2 separate regions of the Homo sapiens genome follow, and region 2 is linked to region 1. The links come from fine-mapping of genetic effects on gene expression. Tissue or cell type: whole blood. Region 1 holds a variant in brackets; the other region holds the start of a gene. All regions are shown on one strand. Distances are from middle to middle.

Evidence for each region.
Region 2: it holds the start of ADGRL1, and the variant in region 1 is fine-mapped to the expression of ADGRL1 in whole blood (TOPMed, PIP above 0.99). The same link has a PIP of 0.9 or more in blood mononuclear cells.

Annotation. Positions count from the first base shown.
Region 1 is chr19:14,236,265-14,239,161 of GRCh38, reverse strand. No RefSeq gene overlaps it. Among named protein-coding and RNA genes, the nearest start is that of ADGRL1, 32 kb to the right of the region's middle. The variant C/T (reference allele first, on the strand shown) is at 1,321.
Region 2 is chr19:14,204,463-14,207,359 of GRCh38, reverse strand. ADGRL1 (adhesion G protein-coupled receptor L1) reads left to right here and starts at 1,191. Exons shown (of 23, transcript NM_014921.5): 1 at 1,191-1,375. RefSeq lists silencers at 398-497, 518-577.

The sequences.
Region 1 (2,897 bases):
GTCAAGAGATGTCTTCTACAGTATGGTGACTATAGCTAATAACAATGTATCGTATACTTGAAAATCACTGAGAGAGATTTTAAGTGTTCTTGTCACACACAAAAATAGGCATGTGAGGTAATATATATGTTAATTCACTCCATTTAGCCATTCTGAAATGTATATGTACTTCAAAACATCATGTCATACACCATAAATACGTACAATTTTAATTTGTCAATTAAATAAATTTTAGGCCAGTGCAGTGACTCACCTCTATAATCCCAGCACTTTGGGAGGCTGAAGTAGGTGGATCACTTGAGGCCAGAAGTTTGAGACCAGCCTGGCCAACATGGTGAAACCCCATCTCTATTAAAAATACAAAATCTAGCCGGGCATGGTGGCATGGGCCTGTAGTTTCAGCTACTCAGGAGGCTGAATAGGAGAATCACTTGAACTCAGGAGGCGGAGGTTGTAGTGAGCCGAGATTGCACCACTGCACTCCAGCCTAGGTGACAGAGTGAGACTCCATCTCAAAACAAAACTAAACTAAACTAAACAAAAAATTAGCCAGGTGTGGTGGCATGCACCTATAGTCCCAGCTACTTGGGAAACTGAGGTAGAAGGATCCCTTGAGCCCAGGAGTTCAATACTGCAGGGAGCTATTGATCGCACCACTGCACTCCAGCCTGGACAGCAGAGTGAGACCCTATCTCTATTTTTTAATTAATTAATTAACTAACAACAACAAAAAGCAAATGGGCATGGATGCATCTCAATTAAAAAGAAATAGTTGGTGACTGAGGCCATGATCTCATCTGAAAGCTCGACTGGGGAGGATCCACTTTCAAGCTCATGAGTTGTTGGCAGGATCAGTTGCCCACTGGCTGTTGGTCAGAGGCCTCTTCTGGTTCCTGGCCTTGTGACCCTCTCCGATGGGCAGCTCACAGCCTGGCAGTTGGCTTCCCTCAGAGTGAGCAGAAGAGAGGGCAAGAAAGGGAGTGCATCCAGCTGGGCACAATGGTTCACGCCTGTAATCCCAGCACTTTGGGAGGCTGAGGTGGGTGGGTGAGGTCTGGAGTCCAAAACCAGCCTGACCAACATGGTGAAACCCCATCTCTAGTAAAAATAAAAAATTAGCTGGGCATAATGGCCCATGCCTGTAATCCCAGCTACTTGGGAGGCTGAGGCAGGAGAATCACTTGAACCGGGAGGTGGAGGTTGCAGTGAGCAGAGATTGCACCATTGCACTCCAGCCTGGACGACAGAGCAAGACTCCATCTCCAAAAAAAAAAAAAAAAGGGAGTGCACCCAAGATGAAAGGCGTGGTCTTTTTTGTGA[C/T]CTAATTTTAGAAGTGACATTGCATCGATTTTGCCACATTCTATGGGCAGGAAGCAAGTCATAGAGTCTAACCACACTCAAGGGTAGGGCATTAATGCAAGGGTTGGAACATTGAGGGCCATCTTAGAGGCTGTCCCTACACCATGCACGTCAATCCAGTGGCTTCATACCACCTGTACCTGTGACTCTTTGCCTGACAGCTTTGCTCTGGTGCATGCAGGCAGCCAGAAGTTCTGGAGAATTCATTTTCCCTGCTAGCATACCTCAACTAACAATGGCTGGGAGTTGGAGGATAAATACCCCAGCTCCCTCACCCTTTGCATAAGATAACTCTCAGGGTTTGTCCAAGATGAGTTAAGACCTAGATATCGCAGAATAACCTGCTCATTTCCACATGATGTACTGGCTGCCCTCCCTTCTGCATCTCATCTCCTCCATCCCCTGCCAGCACTCCCTGCAATCACCTTACAGATAAACCACTTTTACTCAAATCAGAGTGTCTCAGGTACACTTCTGAAGCACCCAACTGTATTAGTTTTCTAGTGCTGCTGCAATAAATTACCACAAACTTGGTGGTTTGAAGCAACATAAGTTTGTTATTCTCTTACAGTTCTGCAGGCTCAAAGTCCAAAGTCAAGGTGTTGGCAGGGCTGGGCTCCCTTTGAAGGTTCTAGGGAAGAATCCTTCCTTGTCTCTCTCCTAGATTTTGGTAGCTCCTTGTAATCCTTGGTGTTCCTCAACTCAAAGCTGCATCATTCCAGTCATTCCATGGAGAGGCTTCCATGGTCTCTGTGTGTCTCTGTGTCCTCTCCTCTTCTTAGATGGACACTTGTCATTGGATTTAGGGCTCATTCTAGTCCAGTAAGACTTCATCTTTTTTTTTTTTTTTTTAAGAGACAGGGTCTTACTCTGTCACTCAGGCTGGAGTGCAGTGGCACAATCATGGCTCACTGCAGCCTCCAATTTTTGGGCTCAAGCAATCCTCCCATCTTGGCCTCCTAAGTAGCTGGGACTACAAGTGTGTGCCACATGCCTGGCTAATTTTTTAAAATTTTTGGCTGGGTGTGGTGGCTCACAACTGTAATCCCAGCATTTTGGGAGGCTGAGGAGAGTGGATCATTTGAGCTGAGGAGTTAGAGACCAGCTTGGCCAACATGGTGAAACTTCATCTCTACTAAAAATACAAAATTAGCTGGGCGTGGTGGTGCATGCCTATAATCCCATGTACTTGGGAGGCTGAGGCAAGAGAATCACTTGAACCCAAGAGGCGGAGGTTGCAATGAGGAGAGATCGTGCCACTGCACTCTAGCCCGGGCTGCAGAGTGAGACTCTGTCTCAAAAAACAAAACAAAACAAAAAGCCCAGGTGTGGTGGCTCACACCTGTAATCCCAGCACTTTGGGAGGTCAAGGCGGGCGGATCACGAGGTCAGGAGATTGAGACCGTCCTGGTTAACATGGTGAAACCCCATCTCTACTAAAAATACAAAAACAACAACAACAAAAAAAAACATTAGCCAGGCGTGGTGGCGGGCGCCTGTAGTCCCAGCTACTTAGGAGGCTGAGGCAGGAGAATGGC
Region 2 (2,897 bases), 32 kb after region 1:
CAGGTCCCGGGAGTTCCGGGCCGGGTCTTGCTTGTTTCCACTGCGTTAGGCCTGACGCATTACTCCGTCTCCCGAGAAAGAATCCGGCCCGAAATTTGCGTGCCCCGGGTGCATTTGGCCATGTCGCATCTACCCCCCAACCCCCCGCTCCAACACCGTTCCTCCCATCTTTATCTAATCCAACTCGGGTTTTGCACAACCCTTCCAGATCTCCCCATTTGCGCCCTCCTTCCCCGGGCTCGGCGCCTTTCCTTATACTTCACTGGAAAATCCGCTCCGGGTCTTCCTTACGCCTGTCTCCCTTCCCCCACTCCCCGCTCCAACGCGGGGCTCCAGCACGTCGCTTTCCCTCTCCCTGCTTTTCCAGGGAGGAGGCGAGAGGAGGCGAAAGGAAGGAAAGTCCAGCCCGGGTTTTCGGGCCGGCTCCTGGGGCGCTCAAGCGGGTTGCGGCGGCCAGTCCCGGGCGGCGACTCCGGGCCGGGTTTTGCGCGCGCCCACCGCCCCCCTCCCGGAGCGGGTGCGCCGGGGAGCGGGGCGAGCAGGCGGCTTGTCATTGCTGGTGCCCGGCGCCGGCTCGGTCCGCGCGTCCTGCGGTGCCCACGGGCCCGGCCCGGCGCCCCCCCTCCGGCCGCACCGGGGGCGCGACGCCGCGGCACCCGCCTCCAGCCGCGCCGCCCCCCTCCGCCAGCTCCGCGCCGCCCGCCCCCAACCCGAGCTCCCCGCGGCCACTGCGGGGAGCCCGAGCCGTCGGCGCGGGAGCTGTCGGCGCTGCGGTGCCCCCGCCCCGCCGTCTGCCGAGGAGGCCCCGGCTGATGGGGCCGCGCGGGCCCCGGAGCGGCGCCGCCGGGCGGCGGGGGCCTGCAGGGGCGCCCCGGCTGCCCCGTTAACCCCTCGTCCACCGCCGGCGTCGGAGGGGGCTGGGAAGTCGCCTGGGCGCACACGTGCCGCCTCCGTCGGGGCCGCGGAGCTGCGGGGGAGATGCGGGCCGCTGCCGGCGCCGCCTCGGGGCGCTCCGCCTCGCCCCAGCCCCCGGCGCTCTGACGCCGCCCCCGCCCCACCGCCTCCCTCCCCGGGAGGGGCGCAGACCCGATCGCCCCCAGTCCCGAGCCTCCGCCGCCGCGAGGGGGCCGCCTTTGGATCCGTGTAATCCGCCTCTTTTTTTTCTTTTCTTTTCTTTTTTTTTTTTTTTCCTAATTTTTGGTCGGCGGCGGTGCTGGGCCAGGGGAAGGAAGGGACACGGAGGCCGCCCTCGTCCCGCCACCTCCTACCCGCTTCCCCCCAGCCCCGGCTCCGGGAGATGTGCCGGGCGGGGGGCCCGGGTTCGCCGAGCCGCAGGAGAGACACGCTGGGCCGACCCCAGAGAGGCGCTGGACAGGTGAGTGTCTGCGGGCCCAGGGCGAGGGGCGAAGCCGCACCTGGGCCAGGTGTGCGGGGCGCGTGGAAGAGGGGAGGCGGGAAGGATGGGAGGCCGGGGCCTGTCCTGGCCGCGAGGGGGGAGGGGACACGGGAGCCGCGCGGGGCACCGCACCTGAGCGGGAGGGGCGTCGGGGGCAGCCCGCACCTCACCCCCACTGGCGAGGGGCCTGGGAGGGGCGGCCCCCACGGAGCGCCCGGGGCGCGGGGGTGCGGACGGGCTACCGCAGGGTGCCTGGCGGGGGGAGGGGACCGCGAGTGTGCCCGCGCGTGGCTGCGTGTGCCCGCGCGCGCGCCAGCCTTTGTGGGGAAGCGGCGCGGCGGTGCCTGCGTGTCCCCGGTGCGTGTGCGCGCGGGTGCTTGGCGCCCTGTTTGTGTAGGTGTCTGGGTGTGAGCGGAGGGGGTGCGTGTGCGCGCCGCGCGCCGGCCCCGCGCCCCAGAGGAGCCGTGTCGGGGGCTGGCACCACAGGATGCTGGGCGAGGGGGTTGTTTTTCTCTGGGAGGCAGTGGCGCGGGGGATGGGGAGGGGTCCGTCTGGGTGTCCAGCCGGCCGCAGTCCGGGGGGCGCCGCTGTCAGGAGGAGGGGGTGCAGCCGGGCAGCACCTTCTCTCCGTGGTGCCGGGTTAAAGCACGGGAGGCCGGCAGGTTTGATCCACTCGGATTATTCGTGCTTTGAGGACAGCTCCCCACCCCCACCCCAGGTGCGCATTGGATTGAGCTGCGAGGGTTTGGTTGTCATCCTCCCATCTGACGGTCCTGGGACCCGAGTCCAGGCCTGAAGTGGTGGGGTGGGGGGATGCTGTGTTTGCTCCAGCCGTGTCCAGAAAATGCCCTCCCAGGTATCTCTCCAGTGCACCCCTGGCCCCCATCTGAAGACAGCCGCTGGCTACACACACCCCTGTCTCTACACTTCCAGTCCGGGTCCTCACACTGCCCCATCCCTGGCCAACACCTCACTGTACCTGCCTGGACCCTTTCTTCCTGTTCCAACCCCCATCCACCCCCAGCCATGCCAGCTGCGTGGGTGTTTCTGTATCCCAGTTCCAGGCAGGGCCCCCCCTTCCGCCTGGCTTCCACCGGACTCAGAGCTGGGGTCTGTCTTCCCACATCCCACTTCCCAACATGTGTGCCTGGGGGCAGGAGGGGGAGGGGTTCAAAATGGCTGCCAAGATGGCTGGCTCGCGCGCTCTCTCTCTCTCTGTCTGTCTCTCTCTCTCTCTCTCTCTCTCTCTCACTCTCTCTGTCTTTCTCTATCTCTCTCTGTCTTTCTCTCTTCCCCTCTCTGCTTGCCCGGCTCCCTTATCCTGGTAGGGAGTCACTGCTTAGAGGAGGTCGGATCCAGTGGGGCACACCTGAGGGTGAATGTCTATTCCGGGCCGTTGACCTCCATGCTGTTTGGGGACAGACCATTGGTTTCTGCTTCTCTCTCCAACACCCCAAGGGCTGGCATGAGTCTAACCTGACCCCAGACCCCACTCCTTCAC